6 linked regions of the Homo sapiens genome follow. The protein of the gene in region 4 purifies or fractionates together with the protein of the main gene of each other region. This does not show direct contact. Each region holds a gene or a part of one and is shown on either strand. Other genes may lie near its edges.

Region 1 (3,500 bases), on a different chromosome or scaffold from region 4:
AGCCTTGAACTGCTGGACTCAAGCGAGTCTCCTATCTTGGCCCCCCAGAGCACTGGGTTTACAGGCTTGGACCACTGCCCTTGGCCTGAAACCAAGTTTTGACTGCGACCCGTCACACGAGGTCGGGTATGGAATTACCTCCTGGTGGTGTCATGTTGGTGCTCTGAAAAGCTGGATTTTGGAACATTTCAGGTTTTGGATTTTTGGATTAGGGATGCCTAACCTGTATACCAGTTTTTTATAGTTTTTGATTTTTCAAATTGACTAAAATTTGTATGCATGTTTTATAGGTAACTGTAGAGTAGTGATTTATAATTTTTTTGATCCAGTACCCCTTTGAGAATCTGTTGAAAGCTTAAAATTCATCTCAGCCTTTGTTAAATGTTAATTTACTATGTAAGAAAAATTATTATTATTATATTACTTTTAGAAAGTGAGTCTGAGGATAGTTCAGATGATGAACCTTTAATTAAAAAGTTGAAGAAACCCCCTACAGATGAAGAGTTAAAGGAAACAATAAAGAAATTACTGGCCAGTGCTAACTTGGAAGAAGTCACAATGAAACAGATTTGCAAAAAGGTAATTAGACAAATGTTTAGATTATTTTGCTTTTGCTAGAAAAATTCTTTCACTTATCTCTGAATTTGAAGCTAAATACTTACGTGCATTCACTTATTGAAGAAAGATTTATTGAACTACTATATGCCAGATCTCCTTACAGGTGCTGGGATACCACTTAAAATAGTCAAAGTCTCTGTCCTAATAGAGTTATTTTATAAACAACATTAAAATGAATAAAGTTAGAGTGAATAAAATTAAAGTGACACATTCCAAACCACATAGGAAACTTTTTCTGATCTGTAGGTTGTTTCTATTGATGTATCCTTAGTTTATGTTAGTTTAAAGAAGCAGAATCTCATGAACCGTCTTATTCTCTTCTTAGTGTGATAAATGAGCTGTTATAGATTAGGTTCTTAACTCAGACTTCTGCAGCGTCTTTCTAATATTTCTAATACTTCTCAGGAAATAAAGTGGCCTTGTCTTGAATATGATTCCATAGGGATTCTATGGAAATTTTAGAAACTTGTCTGTTGGGGTAAAATAAAATTACAATTTGGAATGTACCAAAAGTGAAATAGTCTGTGCTTTTTTAAAGGACATTGATTATTATTTTGTTCATTCATTCACCATTCATTGATTCTCTACTACATTTCAGGCACTGGGCTAAATGTTACAGGTAGAAGCTAGATGTGGTGGCTCACGCCTGTAATCCCAACACTTTGATAGGCTGAGGCAGGAGGACTGCTTGAGGCCAGGAGTTCAAGACCAACCTGGGCAGCATAGTGAGATCCCGTCTCTACCAAAAAAAAATTTTTTTTAATGTTACAGGTGGAACCAGAGAAGCCATTACTTAGCTTTCAAGAGGAGCTTACAGTCTAGTGGGATGGAAAGAGATAAATATTTTAGTAATTAAAATATTGTAAGCGAGGGCTGTGTTAGAATATGGAAGGTACTGCAGTGCCACAGAACAAGCACCCTACTTGAGGCTGGGGGAATCTGGAAAAGCATCTTGGAAGAGCTCTTAACTGAATTTCCTAGTGGAGCATCACCCATTCTATACAGTTGAGGAACAATAACACATTAACCAAAACAATAATTGAAAGGAATAGTATTAGTTCAACATGTCTCAAGACTAGGATTGGAAAGAAGTCCTCACAGAAGTTAGGAGAAAATATTAGAGTTTTGCAGATCTTAAATATGCCATGTTAGAGTTTGAGTTTCTTCCTGAAATAAATGAGGAATTCAGAGGCTATGTAGATTATTGAGATTTAGCAGGGGCATAACGCAATCATATTTTTATTTTTAAAAGTTATCCTAGAAACATTAAGAACAATGCAATAGCAAAGGATGAGATGAGAGAGGCAGGACACCCAGTTATATCATCATTAAAATGACAGTGTGGAGTGGAGAGGAAGTCAAAGAGAAATTAGTTCTGTCCATTAGAAGGATTTTTGTGAATACCTTCATGTAAATTTTTTAAAGGGATTAATAACATGGAGAGGTCAGGTGAGAAGGAACTGACCTGTTTTGGAGTCTGCAATTAGGAGACGATGACATAGGGTGGTAAAAGCAAGAGTTATTAATGAATAGTGAGGAAAATGAACAAAGTAACTTCTGTTTCAAGCAGCTGTCTTTGGAAGGAAAATAGTAGGTAAATGGGAGTAGGTGAGAAAGTATTTTTAATGGGTAGTAGGGGTGGAGGGGAGAAAGCAATTTGGTGGGAAAGGAGAAGTTACAGGAGAGGTGAAGGGTGGTCCTGTGGAGGCAAAATTAAGAACCATTGATGAATCCAGATACAACTGGAGGGGAAAGTGCTGTCAGAAAATTGAAGGAATTCATAATAATGGCTTTTTGGCTGACAGTAGCAGTGTGAGACACTTGAATAAGGAGATGAAACTGCCATTGGTGGAAATGAAAGGAGAGAGCCTGACTGGGAGCTCCAGGGGGAGGAGCCTTTGAAGATGAATGCCATGAACTGAAAATGAGACCAGTCTCTTCAAAGTTATTTTCCCACAGCAATCTGTAGTCTGGGCTTAACCATAGAAAAATGAGTGGTTAGACCAATTCGGGATTGGGGTTTTGCAGGGAAAGAACAAGGGGCAAACAATTTTTTTCTTTTTTTTAATACTTTTAAGTTCTAGGATACATGTGCACAACGTGCAGGTTACATATATATATATATATATATATCCATGTGCCATGTTGATGTGCTGCACCCATTAACTGGTCATTTACATTAGGTGTATCTCCTAATGCTATCCCTCCCCCGTCCCCCCCACCCCACAACAGGCCCCGATGTGTGATGTTCCCCTTCCTGTGTCCAAGCGTTCTCATTGTTCAATTCCCACCTATGAGTGAGAACATGCAGTGTTTGGTTTTCTGTCCTTGCGATAGTTTGCTGAGAATGATGGTTTCCAGCTTCATCCATGTCCCTACAAAGGACATGAACTCATCCTTTTTTATGGCTGCATAGTATTCCATGGTGTATATGTGCCACATTTTCTTAATCCAGTCTATCATTTGGGTTGGTTCCAAGTCTTTGCTATTGTGAATAGTGCCGCAATAAACATAACATGTGCATGTGTCTTTATAGTAGCATGATTTATAATCCTTTGGGTATATCCCCAGTAATGGGATGGCTGGGTCAAATGGTATTTCTGGTTCTAGATCCTTGAGGAATCGCCACACTGTCTTCCACAATGGTTGAACTAGTTAAAGTCCCACCAGCAGTGTAAAAGTGTTCCTATTTCTCCACATCCTCTCCAGCACCTGTTGTTTCCTGACTTTTTGATGATCTCCATTCTAACTGGTGTGACATGGTATCTCCTTGTGGTTTTGATTTCATTTCTCTGATGGCCAGTGATGATGAGCATTTTTTCATGTGTCTGTTGGCTGCATAAATGTCTTCTTTTGAGAAGTGTCTGTTCATATCCTTTGCC
Region 2 (2,551 bases), on a different chromosome or scaffold from region 4:
ACATCAATGTTATAGTATTGATCTAAATGGAAGAGAAAACATTTTTTTAGTTAAAAAGAAAACAATGCCCAAACTAAAAAATAACTTATGTTGACTATTATGCTCAAAGACAATGTTTATCATTTTAATAGAGATGTTTTTACTAATTAATTTGAACTTTATAACAAAAAGAAAAACAATTGCCTAGACTTTTCAGCTTTTTTGATGTTTCAAAAGATTGACATTTCACCATCTTTTTGTAAAATCAGGTTCAGCTCTCCTTTATGAAGTAAACATTAAAGAGTAACCAAGTTTGAAAAATAATTTACTTGGGGTTATTCCTTTTAAAAAATACATGCCAATGTCATTCATATTATGAAATTACAGGCAGAATAACTTAGATTTCTGGGCATTTCAAAGAAAAGCATCCTGAGTAATATAATTTAATTAATAAAATTAGTTTCTCAGGAACTTCTTTCTGATCTTACAGACTCTGCAGTGATGCAAATCATTATAACCTTGTGCCAAACAAGGTATCTGTTAAATGCCACAAATGATAGAAGTAAAATACTATTGTCAGTAGCAAGTTTACTCTAGTAACTGGATGTTTTATCGTAATCTCATGAAGGTTAGAGCAGAATTGAATTGCAGTGCCATCATTTTAATTGAAATTAAAGCAAAAGTCTTAACTCTTTTCCACAGCAATTAGAATAAGTACCGTAGTGTAACTTCTCACATTCAGTCATCATTGCAGCCAGCATTTTTACTTTATCTTCATGTTTTCACAAATGATATCACCTCCTTGGGAAACTGTTAGTTAATACCTTACCTTTAGAAAAGGCATAGTAATCATAGCCGTCAGGTTTTCTGATGTTGGGCAGTGATATAGCTGAGGTAACCACATTTGGAAGTCCTCTCCACAGTATACTCACTTTAACTTCATTATGAAGGACACCTGTAAGTGGCATGTTTAATAAAAGATACCAGATTAAAAGGCAATGTACTATCTTGGAAAGAGCCAGACATCTGAGTTTTAATCTCAGTTTTAGCCCTCTGATGTAGAACTATTGAGGGTTATAGACTGGTATATAATGTTCTTGGTAAGAAGTACTTGATAAATAGTATTGGTTATAACTAACAAACCTGAACAAACTGCTTTACTTACCCACAAGGAAAAAGAAAGTATTGGTCTTTGGTTATTCACTAAGGCAAGTGGATGAGTTTTTCATCAGTAAGCTTAAATTATTAGGGCTGTTTGATCAGTATCCATATTTCATAAGCCTTACTGTATAAGAAACTGTATTACATCTACTTATGTTTAAGGATTTTTTTAACACAATAAAAATGTTACCTTTGTCTTGATAAGCCAGTCTGGCAGGTGAATATTGAATTCTGATGGTGTGTGTTTGAGAAGGTCCTATAGCACGTTCAAAGCGACGTCTCCTAACCTGTGTCGTTTCTCCATACACTGGATAATTTAGAGCAGGCCTTCTTCCAGGGCACTTCTGTACAGGTTCCTGTTTATAAATATACTGCTGAATGCTGCCACCTGTTATGTATTAGAATATCACATGGAAAATGAAAATTAATTTTAATACCCTCAGAAAAGGTGGAAAACAACTTTTACAATGTATAGGAAACAGTTTTGTTCTCATTTTTCATATAATATATTGATATTAATAATGGCTATTAGTCAAGGGTATTATAAAAATAATTATTAAACTGAAATACTTGTTGAATGAATAGATGCAGCAAATTACATAGTTATATATTTAATTTCAATTGAAAGTGACAAGTGCTCAGTTTGGCAGCACATATACTAAAACTGGAATGATACAGAGATTAGCATGGCCCTTGTGCAAGGATGACATGCACATTTGTGAAGCGAAAGTAAATGACATTCTATCAGTGACCTGAAAACTCAAATGAATTGTGACTTGCCTGTGAAGAAATGAAAATAAAAATTGAGGGCAATAAGAATACTACCCTCAATATTGATTTTTTTCACTGAAAATATTTGATTTCAGCCATTAAAGATATCTTTTGACAGTAAAGTCAATAATAAATGAAAATGCTGAGTGTAATTCTTTAAAAGTTTTGTAATCTTGTCAATTATGTAACACATACCTCTCTTGAAAAAATACACAGATTCAGGCCAGTTCTTATATTTAGCTGTTGAAAGCGCTGCCACTATTTGTCCAGTTAGTCCTCCAAATCCTTTGAAAATTGGTTTGGGGTACCCTGCATCTTTTATATCATTGGTAAAACGCCAGTACTGAGAATCCTGATAATTTAAAAGAGAAAATTATGTTATCAGCTTTGGGAAAAAAGATTTGGAACTCCTTTCTAGATTTAAGTATAGAGAGAACGTGTTAACTTGGTTAAACGGTTGAATTTTGACCATTACTGTTATCAAACTGTTGAATTATGATTAAATTTTGATGACAGAGTATTTAAAAGGACACATATTGGAGGTTAAGGCAATATATGTTGTAATAAATAATGCAGTTACAAATTATTATTAAATTTCTCTCACAAAGATATTTGTGTTACCTTAAAGAAGAAAGTTTTT
Region 3 (3,500 bases), on a different chromosome or scaffold from region 4:
TTGTACAGGGGCTCAGTGGAGTTCAGAGCAGACACTTCCCTGAAAGTTACGAAGGAAGGCAGGTTTTCTGGACCTGATCTGGACAGATAGGATTGAGATGGTGGCTGCGGAAATCATTGTTTGCAAAATAAACAGTTCTTTTTTTAAAGAAATTTTATTTTAGAGTCGGGGGTACATGTGCATGTTTGTTACATGGATATATTGCCTACTGGTGGGGACTGGGCTTCTGGTGTACCCATTATCCAAATAGTGAACATCGTACCCAATAGGTAATTTTTCAATCTCCCTCAATCTTCCTCCTTTTCCAGTCCCCAATGTTTGTTATTTCCATGTTTAAGTCCATGTGTATCCATTGTTCAGCTCCCACTTATAAGTAAGAACATGGAGTATTTGATTTTCTGTTTCTGAATTAGTTCTCTTAGGATAATGGCCTCTAGCTCCATGTTGTTGCAAAGGACATTATTTCATTCTTTTTTTTGAGACAGAGTCTCACTCTGTCATGAGTGCAGTGGTGTGATCATGGCTCACTGTAGCCTCAACCTCTTGGGCTCAGGTGATCCTCTCACGTTAGCTTCCTGAGTAGCTGGAACTACAGATGTGTACCACAGCATCTAGTTGATTTTTAAAATTTTTTTTGTAGAGATGGGGTGTTGTCTATGTTGCCGAGGCTGGTCTTGAACTCCTGGACTCAAGCAGTCGTCCTGCCTCAGCCTTCCAAATTGCTGGGATTACAGGCATGAATAACCATGCCCAGCCTGATTTCATTCTTTTTTATGGCTGTGTAGTATTCCATAGTGTATATATACCACATTTTCTTTATCTAGTCAACCATTGGTGGACACTTAGGTTAGTTCCATCACTTTGGTATTGTGAATAGTGCTGCAATAAACATACAAGTACAGGTGCCTTTTTTGTATAATGATGTCTTTTCCTCTGGGTAGATACCCAGTAGTGGAATTGCTGGGCCATATGGTAGTTCTATTTTTAGTTCTTTGAGAAATCTCCATATGAAAGAAACAGTTTTTAAGTCAAAAAGTTCTTTATTTTCTTTATTTTACTGAGGTAAAATCCTTAATTTGTCATGGTCATAATACTTGGCAATTAAGAGCTTGGGGTCAGTATTGGACCTTGGTTTGAGTACGAGTTCTGCCTTTCGCTATTAGCTCTTGGTCCTTGGGCAAATTATTTTAACTATTCTCTTCTGAGCCTCAACTTTTTCACCTGTAAAGTGGGGCCAGTACTACTGACTTCACAGGGTTATTGTGAGGACTAAATGAAATAATACTTCAAAGTGTACTGAACAGTGCCTGGCACATAGGAAGAATAAATGTTAGCTGATTTTATTATTATGTAGCTTGAACCCACTGGGTATAGGTCTGCTCCCTGGCATGCCAAATCCGTTCCTGCTTCTATATGGAAATTTTTCAGATATTTGAAGAGAATTATGCCTTCTGTAAAGTTCTTCTCCTAGGTGGTTGTTTCCACGTATTTCTATGTTATATGTAAAGCACAGTAGTTTTCAACCAGGGGCACTTTTGTTCAGTGGGGGACATTTGGGAGCATTTGGAGACATTTTTGGTTGTCACAGCTTGGCAGAGGGGAATGCTACTGGCCTCTAGTGGTTAGAATCCAAGGGTGCTGCTAAATATCCTACAGGACAGCCTCCCACAACAAAGAATTATCCATTCAAAATGTCAGTAGTGCTGATGTAGAAAAACCCTGGCCTACTTGACAGTAGTAATTAAACCTTTTCTTTTCCCTGTATCCCTAATGATTAGGAATAGCAGCATGTGACACCAAGAAGACTACACAAGGATTTAGAAACAAATGAGACACAGATCAAACTCTGTGACTTCAGGCAAATCATTGAATCTCTTAAAACTGTCCCCTTCCATTGCAAAGGGGTTGTAAATACTGAAAGGAATCTGAACCCCAAAGAAGGATGGTCCCGGGCTGGTGATTATAATTGTCCAGCCACATGTATAATTTATGCTTCCGTTTTGAGGAACATGAACAATTAAGTTTATCTCATTGTACTCTTCCTTTCATTGAAGAGGAAGTAAATATTTTTTCTTGTTGCTGCTGTTTTACTCAAGGTAAAAAAGCCAACCCGTAGTTAGGTAAGATAGTTGGTGAAGACAAACGTGTAGTGAGGGACAGAGCTGGAAAGAGAATGTGGCCAGCTCCTGCCTGAAGGACCTGTTCTCTCTCATTTCACAGCGTGATGGACCTGGGTGTTCCTCATCAGTATTATAAAGCAGCTGTCCAAAGTGCCTCTATCTCTGGATTTCATGAGGACTGTGTCCTGCAGGGTTCAGTTTAACAGTCTCTGTATAATGTGAGGTCTAAATGGAAGAGAATCCCACCAGAATAATTGTTTAAAGTTGGAATAGCAGAAATAATGGACTTGAACAAGAGCAGTGACATAGGAGTCAGAAGACAGGACTGCTACTACCCAGGATCCTGAGCAGGTCATGTAACTAAGCCTTAGTGTCTTCCCCTGTGAAATTGAGAGGAGTTACTTGGTCCCATGGGGGAGTGCTCCATATGGCTTAAGCAGATAAGATTCTGAAAAAGAAGAGCTAAGTGGAGTTTTAATCAAAAGGGTCCTTTAAAATGTGCTGAGGAAGCATGCCACAAAGAGGTCCTTTGAAAGGTAAAACATGTTTTGGTAAACCAGTGCATTGTTTTGGGAATAAATCTGGCTGTTCCTAACTTGGATCCTTTAAAAGGAGGATGTGCCTATATTTTATTTCGGCCTGGTTTGGGACCCAGAATTCTTGATGGACAACTGGTTTTGGGGCGTAACAGATAACTTTACTACTAACTGTAGATTGAATATGTCCTGTTAATCAGGAACATACCCTTTTGTGCCTCTGATGACAAAGTATGCTTCCAAGTGATGATTTTTGGCTGCCCAAAATAAGACTTCTTCTTTTTTTTTTTTTTTTTTTAAAGGCAAATGCCAAGAATCCTAATGACCAGTTTTCAGATACAGTGTTGTTTGGAAGCTGTTGTATAAATGCCTTGCCTTTTCTTTTCTTTTCTTTTCCTCTCTCCCTCCCCTTCCCTCCCTCCCTGTCTTCTTTCCCCCTTCCCCCCTCTCTCCCTCCCCCATCCCTCTCCCCCTCCTTCTCTCCTTCCCTCCCCTTCCTCTCCTTCCTCTTTTTCTCCCTCCCTTCCTTCCTCTCTTTCTCTTTTCTTCTTTTTCTTAGAGATGGGATCTCACTATGTTGATCAGAGTGATCTCAAACTACTGGCGTCCAGTGAGCCTTCTGCCTAACTGTCCCAAAGTGCTGAGATTACAGGCAAGAGCCACAGTGCCTGGCCGTAAGTGCTACTTCAGATGGAACTATCTACCATCTTTTTTAAGAAAACAAACTTTTTATTTTGAGATAATCGTAGATTCACATGCAGTTGTAATAAATAATGCAGAAAGATCCTGTCTGTACTTTATCCAGTTTCCCCCAATGGTGATATATGGAAAAACTATGGTACAA
Region 4 (2,269 bases):
CTGCAGAGACTGGAGTATGGGCTCCAGGCTGCCTTTGTGGTGGAGGGGCAGGTTCTAGGCTGGAAGTCGAGGTGCCAGGCTGTCCCAGGGCCTCAGGTCAGCCCACAGCTGGCAGCACAGTGCCCATTTTGCAGGCCCTTGTGGGGAGAATGCAAAGCAGAGCCAGGCCCAGCCTTCCTAGGAGCATAGTCCAGGGAGGGAAATAAGGACCCAGAAACACGATTCTAGCTCAGCTCAGGGCTCCAGCGAGGGTGCACCGGGAGCCCAGGGATGGAGGCCTCGCTCCCCGCTGGCTCCATCATCCTGACCCATCCTGTTCCTCCTCGGTCTCAGATTCCCCACCTGTCCAACGCGTACCTCTGGGGTTCCTCGCAGACCCCTGGGCTAGGGGTAGGGGTGGAGGAGCCCAGTGTGATCTGTCCCTGCCGTTCCCTTCCCTGCAGCTCCCCTTGCGGCCCCTGCTCTCCCGAGACTGCCGGGACCTACTGCAGCGGCTCCTGGAGCGGGACCCCAGCCGTCGCATCTCCTTCCAGGACTTTTTTGCGCACCCCTGGGTGGACCTGGAGCACATGCCCAGTGGGGAGAGTCTGGGGCGAGCAGTGAGCAGACGGCTGGGGCTGGGGTGGGCTGAGGGTGGGCTGGAGGTCTCCTTGCCCCCGTTGGTGGTGAATTGGTGACTCACCCAACAGAGACAGAGGGCGGGCTCAGGGGAGCTGATCTCCCATCTTGGTGAGTGTGGGAGGGTAGGGAGGTGGACCTGACCCCTGATCTGCCCATCCCCAGACCGCCCTGGTGGTGCAGGCTGTGAAGAAAGACCAGGAGGGGGATTCAGCAGCTGCCTTATCACTCTACTGCAAGGCTCTGGACTTCTTTGTACCTGCCCTGCACTGTGAGTCCCAGGCCATGCCTGAAGCCCGTGGGTGCAGCAGGGATGGGAGTCATCTGTGGCTGCAGTAGGTGGATTCCAGAAGTTCTCTATCTAGAATTTTGTAGGCGATAAAGCAGAGCGTAAACCTGGAATATTGTGTTTTGAGGGATTCCAGAGGGTTCGTTGTGGGGCAGGGAGGGGTTCGCCCAGACTCCTCATATGACCTCACTTTCTGCAGATGAAGTGGATGCCCAGCGGAAGGAGGCAATTAAGGCAAAGGTGGGTGAGAGTCCCCATGAGGAAGTGGGGGGGCAGGGGGTAAGGCCCGGAGATCTCGGGGGCCTCTGGGGAATGGCTCTCTTAGAATTGGAACTTCCTCTCCTGCAACACAGAGCTGGGAATGGGTCAGGCCAGCCACATTTGCCCCCTGACATGTTTATAGCTTGAGGCAGTCACTAACAATGCAAAGGGAGAACTTGGAGGTGGGTTCTGGCAAGGGTAGCTGGTGAGACAGCCCCTCCTCAGGCCCTTTCCCTGCTACAGGTGGGGCAGTACGTGTCCCGGGCTGAGGAGCTCAAGGCCATCGTCTCCTCTTCCAATCAGGCCCTGCTGAGGCAGGGGACCTCTGCCCGAGACCTGCTCAGAGGTAGACTCCGGTTTCTGGCTGACCCCAGGGCCCCCAGCAAACCTCCCCACAGCCTGAGGGGGAGGCGGGTGGGGAGAGGCATCCTGCAGCGAACAGGCAGGTTGCTTCCCTCACCCTGAGCCTTTCCCCTCATCTCAGAGATGGCCCGGGACAAGCCACGCCTCCTAGCTGCCCTGGAAGTGGCTTCAGCTGCCATGGCCAAGGTTTGTGCCAGTGGGAGGGGTCCAGGTGGGTCGGGGCAGGGCAGGGAGATACCCAGGCCATGACCCTAAGCAGCCTGGTGTCCTTGTGGCTGCAGGAGGAGGCCGCCGGCGGGGAGCAGGATGCCCTGGACCTGTACCAGCACAGCCTGGGGGAGCTACTGCTGTTGCTGGCAGGTGAGGGCCCCCATTTATGCCCCCCACAGGGCCTCTGGCCACCCTGTCCTCACCACACACCCTCTCTTTACAGCGGAGCCCCCGGGCCGGAGGCGGGAGCTGCTTCACACTGAGGTGCCCACTGAGCTTGAGAGGGTTGGGGGGCTTCCTCTTCCCCTTTCTCTGCTCTTACCTGTGGGGACCTCTTTGGGTTCCCTCTGGAATGTCCCACTGTCAGGGTGTTCCAAGTCTGGAAGTCAAACCATAGGGCTGGGGTGCTCAGACAGGGCAGTGGGGGATCTGGGAACCCAGCAGCAAAAAGTCTGGGAAGGCTTCCTGGAGGAAGGAGCAGATAAGGGACTCAGGAGGCAAGTTGTTCTGATGGGGCAGAGGGTTCTG
Region 5 (3,500 bases), on a different chromosome or scaffold from region 4:
CAGTGGTGCGATCATAGCTCATTAAAAAAATTATTTATTTTTTATTTTTTGAGATAAGATCTTTGTCACCCGGGCTGAGTGCAGTGGTGTGATCATGGTTCACCGCAGCCTCCACATCCTGGGTTCAAGCGATCCACCTATCTTAGCCTCCCAAGTAGCTGGGACTACAGGCGTGTACTACCACGTGTAGCTAATTTTTAAGTTTTCTGTAGAGACGGTGTCTTCCTATGTTGCCCAGGCTAGTCTCAAACTTTTGGGGGCCTCAAGCGATCCTCAAAGTGCTGGGATTACAGGTGTGAGCCACCATGCCTGGCCTTCCTAGGGTATTGATTCAATTTTATTTTACAGATGGCTAAAGAAATTATAGTTTATGAGTTTTCATTACCAAACGTTTATTGAATTTCCATGTCCTTGGTAAAGGCAAAATTAGAATGATAGCATTCTCATTTTAAGAGTTTATTTTCTTTAACATTGGGTAACCTTAATCTCTCCATCCTGAGATGATTAATTTAAGCTTAAAATCTTGAAAACCATCTTGTCAGATGGAAAAGCTGTAGCATACCAATTCATTGACAGAGTTACATGGGACCTTTTATCTTTGGTATTCCCTCCACCAAAACTTCCCCACGAAAAAATTCCCATCAAAGTCTAGCCATGCATATGTTGGTATCCATAACACATTAAAATAGTACTGTCTTCTGCATGTTTTAAAATGTTATCAAATATCAAATGTTATCAAATGATACCATATGTATCATTTTGTGACTTAGTGATTTTGGTGAACATTGTTTTGTAGATATACCTGTTTTGATTCTAGATAATTTATTTTAATAGCTATATAGTATGCATATGCCACAGTTTATTGGTTTTGTTGATCAATTTGTTCTTTCTTGCTTTTTGCTATTGGGAATATTTGTGTGTATGCTCTAGAGTTTATCTAGGGCAGTGTTGCTAAAATTGCAGGACTTGTTAGTGATCTGGAAATTAGTGGGCTGAGATCAGCATTTTCTTTTAAAATGAAATTGAACAAGATAAAATAGGATAGAGTAGGGTAGAATAAAATAGCATAAAGTAGAAAAATGGAAAAGATATCAAGCATCTCATGTAGGAGGAGTAAGAATTATTTTGTGAAATTTCAGTTATATATACATATATAACTGAATATATATATATATATATATATATATATATATATATATATATATATCATGAATCCTTTGCTCACTTTTGAATTGTGTCGTTTGTTTTATTCTTACTGATTTGCAGGCATTCTTTATATATTTTGTGTATGGATCCTTTCCAAGCTGTCCATTATGCATGTTACAAATATCTTCCCCCATTCTGTGGCATATTTTTCCTTTTGTTCAAGTTTACTGCTCTTTTCTTTGTGTTTTATGCTTTCCTGTCTTATGTATGAAATCTTTAACTGCTCTGAGGTCATAAATATATTTCTATACTTCTAAAAGTTTGAAAGTTTTGCTTTTTTTTACATTTCCACATGGATTCTCTTTTATTTTCCATATGGAAATACTATAGATTAAATTCTCCTTAGTGTGCATTTTTTCATGTGTTTCAGTGTCCAAATTGTTGAAACCCTCTCCTGAAGCTTATAAAGTATGATATTCTAAAGTTACATTTTATAACTTTAGTATTTTTATAATAGAGCATCTCTGCTGCTGACTTTTTAATAGTAGATAGCACAGATACAATTTTTAAGCTGTATTTTTCTCAGATAAAGAATGGATTGTTAAATGTGCAAGACAGTATATTCTTTTCCTTCTGTTTTTCTCTAATAGAATTTATTTGTGTATTTATATTTCCAGTCACATTAACTTTGCTCTAGAAGACAACTTTACAAGGATCTAAAAGGAACAGGATTAAAGATGACTGAATACTGGGTTCCAGAAATTTAAAACAATCAGGTACAAAAGTTTTTGGAGGGAATGCTCCCAGCCAGTCAGTATAAAATAGAACTGTTGAGAATGTACACAAGAAAAACTTAAAGTATCTAGCCCTGAAATACAGTGGAGGGTCCCAAAACAAGGGCTTTGGAATAGTCCTGGTTCAAATACTGGCTCTGACACTGATTGGTTGGTGACTATTGGTCACGTTACTGAAATGTGTGAATAAAATGGAGGCAATGATTAACCTGTTTCATTTGGATATTATAAAGATTAAATAAGGTGAGGCACTTAGTGCCTGGCACAGAATAACTTTATTTTTACTGTTGTTATTGCTGTTGTTATTTAGAATACATTTTATCACATCATGGATATGGCTTTCTGTATGTATATTGTGAATTGTTATTTTAAGTATATATATCAACATATTGTTAATAGCCTGGTGAAATCACATGGATAACAGGGTAAGGTAATCTCCACGTGTAGTGCACAAACTATACATGCAAATTGGGGATGATAGTTTTCTTTATTATGTATGCATCACATTGAAATAATGTAAAAAAAAAAGCCAACCATCTCCCACAATGCTAAAAAATTCAAAACACTTTTTAATAGTATTATACAATAGTAATTAATCTTGATTTATTTTTAAATCTTGAAGGACTTTCTGATTGACAAATATGAAATTATGTTAATCTTACATTTCATTCAATTTGAATCCTGCATGTCATTTCTTTGAATGTGGTAATTTCCATGACATACATACAATTATGTCTTAACCTGATGTCAGATAAACAGAATGGCCTGTTTTCCTACCATTCTAATTTTAAAGAGTTTAATTTTACTTGAAATTGATAAAAGACACTGAAAAGAGGTTATTTCCTACTCAAAAGCCCAGGATCGGTTTTTCATGATTTTAGCACATTAGGAAGATTTCCCTTCTGCTAGGAACGAAAGGGGGCCTAGGGTAGTGCAGTGAGGGGCAGTCACATCTCTACTTGGTCCCTTCTTTTTTCTCTTCTCTCCCTCTTTCTTCTCCTCTCCTTTTATTTTTTATTCCAGTAAACTTGGGGCAAATATGGAAAAAGTGTTTCCTGATAGGGTGAGGCAGAAGGAGAGGGAACTTTGGTTACAGGCCAGTTCCAGTATACAAAAAGCTGGGTTCTAAGGATGCTTTGTATGAATACGTTGCGTTTTACTCTGAGCCATGGGCTGTGGGTTATAGCAATGAAGGAATCGTCTGCCCTTTTGAAGAACTTACCAATTAATAGAGAAGGTACATCATACAAGAATAACTGTCATATGAGGCAGAATTTGAAAAATGCCTTCAATGTAGTTAAAAACAAAACAAAAAGTGCTGTGGAAATACAGAGAAGAGGTCCCAGCCCATTTGGGTAATCAGGATCCACATTGATGTAAATCTCAGTGGCAGTCATGCTGGGTCTTAGAGAAAATTAGGATTTTAACAGATCTGCTAAGATGCCATAGATAATATGTAGTAAGTATTAATTAAAATGACAGAATATCTTTCCATATTGTCAATCAGATCGGTTTATAAATTTTTAAGTGAGAAACTTCTAAGTAATCTTCTAAAAAGCA
Region 6 (3,500 bases), on a different chromosome or scaffold from region 4:
TAGGTGTAGAGTTCTGTGGCATGAAGTACGTTCACAATTGTTGTGCAGCCACCTCCACCATCCACCTTCAGAACTCTTTCATCTTCCCAAATGGACACTCTGTACCCATTAAATAGCAACTCCCTATTTTCTCCTGCTCGGGCCTTGGCCAACACCATCTTTTCATTGTACTCTTTGATGTTTGCCTGTCTCCCAAGAGAACAGGCAGACGCCTAGAGTCTTTGCAGGTAGCAGCTTCCCCCCAGGACTTACTGACACTGCTTTGAGTCATCTGGATGGATGACAAATGCTGTGATATTCTTATTTACACTAGTGTGTAAGGTTTCCTTTTTTGTTTGTTTGTTTTTTTTTTTGAGACAGAGTCTTGCTCTGTCGCCCAGGCTGGAGTGCAGTGGTGCGATCTTGGCTCACTGCAAGCTCCGCCTCCCGGGTTCATGCCATTCTCCTGCCTCAGCCTCCCATGTACCTGGGACTACAGGCGCCTGCCACCACGCCCGGCTAACTTTTTTTTGTATTTTTAGTAGAGATGGGGTTTCACCATGTTAGCCAGGATGGTCTCGATCTCCTGACCTCGTGATCCGCCCGTCTCGGCCTCCCAAAGTGCTGGGATTACAGGTGTGAGCCACCGCGCCCGGCCTCAAGCAATTCTTCTGCCTCATCCTCCTGAGTAGCTGGGGCTACCGGCATGTGCCAACACGCCTGGCTAATTTTAGTATTTTTAGTAGAGACGGGGTTTCACCATATTGGCCAGGCTAGTCTCGAACTCCTGACCTCGTGATCTGCCTGCCTCGGCCTCCCAAAGTGCTGGGATTACAGGCGTGAGCTACTGTGCCTGGCTTTTTTTCTTTTTTTGAGACAGAGTCTTGCTCTGTTGATCAGGTTGGAGTGCAGTGGCCTGATCTCGGCTCACTGCAAGCTCCGCCTCCTGGGTTCACGCCATTCTCCTGCCTCAGCCTCCTAAGTAGCTGGGACTACAGGTGCCCGCCACCATGCCCAGCTAATTTTTTGTATTTTTAGTAGAGACGGGGTTTCACCATGTTAGCCAGGATGGTCTTGCTCTCCTGACCTCATGATCCACCTGCCTCAGCCTCCCTTTTTTTTTTTTAATTGAGATGGAGTCTTGCTGTATTGCCTGGGCTGGAGTACAGTGGCAAGATCTTGGCTCACAGCAACCTCTGCTGCCCAGGTTCAAGCGATTCTCCTGCCTCAGCCTCCTGAGTAGCTGAGATTACAGGCATCCACCACCATGCCCGGCTAATTTTTGTGTTTTTAGTAGAAACGGGATTTCGCCATGTTGGCCAGGCTGGTCTCGAACTCCCGACCTCAGGTGATCAGCCCTCCTCTGCCTCCCAAAGTGCTGGGATTACAGGTGTGAGCCACCACACCTGGCCAAGGTTTCCTTTTAAAGTAATTTTTTAGTAAAGAAGAATCCATTTAATACAATAATAAGAAAAGGGCCGAGCATGGTGGCTCATGCCTATAATCCCAGCACTTTGGGAGGTTGAGGCAGGAGGATCGCTTAAGCTCAGGAGTTTAAGACCAGCCTGGGCAACATAGCGAAACCCTGTCTCTACTAAAAAAAAAAAAAAAAGAAAAGGAAAATAAAGCTGGGTGTGGCACAGGCACCTGTGGTCCCAGCTACTCCTGAGGCTGAGGCAGGAGGATTGCTTAAACCCAGAAGGTCAAGGCTGCAGTGATCCATGATTGTACCACTCTACTCCAGCCTGGGCAACAGAGTGAGAGCCTGTCTATTAAAAAAACTAGGCCGGGTGCAGTGGCTGGCCAGATGCAGTGGCTCATGCCTGTAATCCCAGCACTTTGGGAGGCCGAGGAGGGCGGATCACCTGAGGTCAGGAGTTCGAGCCCAGCCTGGCCAATATGGTGAAACCCCATCTCTACTAAAAATACAAAAAAAATAGCTGGGCGTGGTGCTGGGCGCTTATAATGCCAGCTACCTGGGAGGCTGAGGCAGGAGAATTGCTTGAACCCGGGAGGCGGAGGTGGCAGTGAGCTGAGATTGCATCACTGCACTCCAGCCTGGGTGATAAGAGTGAAACTGTCTCAAATAAATAAATAAGTAAATAAACGAATACAAGTCATACCTGTATGTGACTGGGCTAGGGCAGGTGTCCAACCAAGAGGAGCCTGATGGTGGGGAGGGGCCGTCGGCAGGTGCAGGTGTCTAGGCAACTGCCCTTCCTGGCCACAGCCTGCAGGTCCAGAGGCAGGGGCTTCCAGTGTTGCAGAGGAGATGTGGGGGTGGTGACAGGGGGGATGGACAGAGGGAGCCAAAATGAAAGAACCAATTTTTCTGTTAATCCCTTTGCATACTATGCCCCCACTTAATCCTAAAAATGAACAATAAACAAAACTCCTTTGGTAAGAATGACTGCACTGTACAAATGAGGAGCCTGGGTCCAAGAGCCTCACAGCTGGTTAGTGGCAGAGCTGTGTCCAAAACCAGCCTCAGATCCAGAACCACACTCACTCTCAGATGCCTGGGGAAATGCGCCACCCTTCTCAGATGATTGTTGGTTTACCCAGTTTCCTTCAGCTGGATTTTAAAACTTCAGTAGTACTTTTATTTTTCTGAGACAGATTCTTGCTCTATCACCCAGGCTGCAGTGCAGTGGCACAATTATAGCTCACTATAACCTCAAACTCCTGGGCTCAAGTGATCCTCCCTCCTCAGCCTTTAGAGTAGTTGGGACTATAGATGTGAGCCACCACGCCCAGCTAATTTTTAAAATTTTTATTTATTATTATTATTTTTTAGAGACTCACTATTGCACAGGTTAGTTTCAAACTACTGGCCTCAAGCAATCCTCCTACCTTGGCCTCCCAAAGTGCTGGGACTAAAGGTGCATGCCACCACACCTGGCTAATTTTTTTTTTTTTTTTTTTTGAGACAGAGTCTTGCTCTGTCACCCAGGCTGGAGTGCAGTGGTGCCATTTCAGCTCACTGCCAGCTCCGCCTCCTGGGTTCACACCATTCTCCTGCCTCAGCCTCCCAAGTAGCTGGGACTACAGGCGTCTGCCACCACGCCCGGCTAATTTTTTGTATTTTTTAATGGAGACGGGGTTTCACCATGTTAGCCGGGATGGTCTCGATCTCCTGACCTCGTGATCCACCCGCCTCGGCCTCCCAAAGTGCTGGGATTACAGGTGTGAGCCACCGTGCCCGGCCTTTTTGTTTTTTTTTTTAGAAATGGGGTCTCACTGTTGCTTAGTCTGGTCTCAAACTCCTGGTCTCAAGTGATCCTCCTACCTTGGCCTCCCAAAGTGTTAGGGTTACAGGCATAAGCCACCATGCCTGGCCCAGTGGTGCTTTTAAAAATCAGTATTGGCCAGGCACAGTGGCTCACGCCTGTAATCCCAGCACTTTGGGAGGCCAAGGTGGGCGGATCACCTGAGGTCAGGAGTTTGAGACCAGCCTGACCAATATGGAGAAACCTCATTTCTGCTAAAAATACAAAATTAGCTGGGTATGGTGCTACATG

The links.
Region 1: the proteins of ULK3 (region 4) and DEK purify together in Homo sapiens (affinity purification with mass spectrometry; one large-scale study listed by BioGRID and IntAct). This does not show direct contact.
Region 2: the proteins of ULK3 (region 4) and TPR purify together in Homo sapiens (affinity purification with mass spectrometry; one large-scale study listed by BioGRID and IntAct). This does not show direct contact.
Region 3: the proteins of ULK3 (region 4) and RCL1 purify together in Homo sapiens (affinity purification with mass spectrometry; one large-scale study listed by BioGRID and IntAct). This does not show direct contact.
Region 5: the proteins of ULK3 (region 4) and RCBTB2 purify together in Homo sapiens (affinity purification with mass spectrometry; one large-scale study listed by BioGRID and IntAct). This does not show direct contact.
Region 6: the proteins of ULK3 (region 4) and NUP210 purify together in Homo sapiens (affinity purification with mass spectrometry; one large-scale study listed by BioGRID and IntAct). This does not show direct contact.

The regions. Positions count from the first base shown.
Region 1 is NC_000006.12:18,233,531-18,237,030, reverse strand, and holds part of DEK (protein DEK), read left to right. Parts: intron 1-430; coding exon 431-579; intron 580-3,500. UniProt on the Homo sapiens protein: Involved in chromatin organization.
Region 2 is NC_000001.11:186,311,152-186,313,702, reverse strand, and holds the end of TPR (nucleoprotein TPR), read left to right. Parts: coding exon of another isoform or gene 1-22; 3' UTR 23-808; coding exon of another isoform or gene 809-934; 3' UTR 935-1,330; coding exon of another isoform or gene 1,331-1,528; 3' UTR 1,529-2,051; downstream 2,052-2,551. Other genes in the region: PRG4 (proteoglycan 4 isoform A preproprotein), read right to left, coding at 1-22, 809-934, 1,331-1,528, 2,107-2,263, 2,533-2,551.
Region 3 is NC_000009.12:4,795,944-4,799,443, forward strand, and holds part of RCL1 (RNA 3'-terminal phosphate cyclase-like protein), read left to right. Parts: intron 1-3,500. UniProt on the Homo sapiens protein: As part of the small subunit (SSU) processome, it plays a role in 40S-ribosomal-subunit biogenesis in the early pre-rRNA processing steps at sites A0, A1 and A2 that are required for proper maturation of the 18S RNA.
Region 4 is NC_000015.10:74,837,888-74,840,156, reverse strand, and holds part of ULK3 (serine/threonine-protein kinase ULK3), read left to right. Parts: intron 1-443; coding exon 444-599; intron 600-783; coding exon 784-889; intron 890-1,106; coding exon 1,107-1,147; intron 1,148-1,411; coding exon 1,412-1,514; intron 1,515-1,652; coding exon 1,653-1,717; intron 1,718-1,812; coding exon 1,813-1,891; intron 1,892-1,964; coding exon 1,965-2,005; intron 2,006-2,269. UniProt on the Homo sapiens protein: Serine/threonine protein kinase that acts as a regulator of Sonic hedgehog (SHH) signaling and autophagy.
Region 5 is NC_000013.11:48,523,081-48,526,580, reverse strand, and holds part of RCBTB2 (RCC1 and BTB domain-containing protein 2), read left to right. Parts: intron 1-1,823; 5' UTR 1,824-1,922; intron 1,923-3,500.
Region 6 is NC_000003.12:13,410,323-13,413,822, reverse strand, and holds part of NUP210 (nuclear pore membrane glycoprotein 210 precursor), read left to right. Parts: intron 1-3,500. UniProt on the Homo sapiens protein: Nucleoporin essential for nuclear pore assembly and fusion, nuclear pore spacing, as well as structural integrity.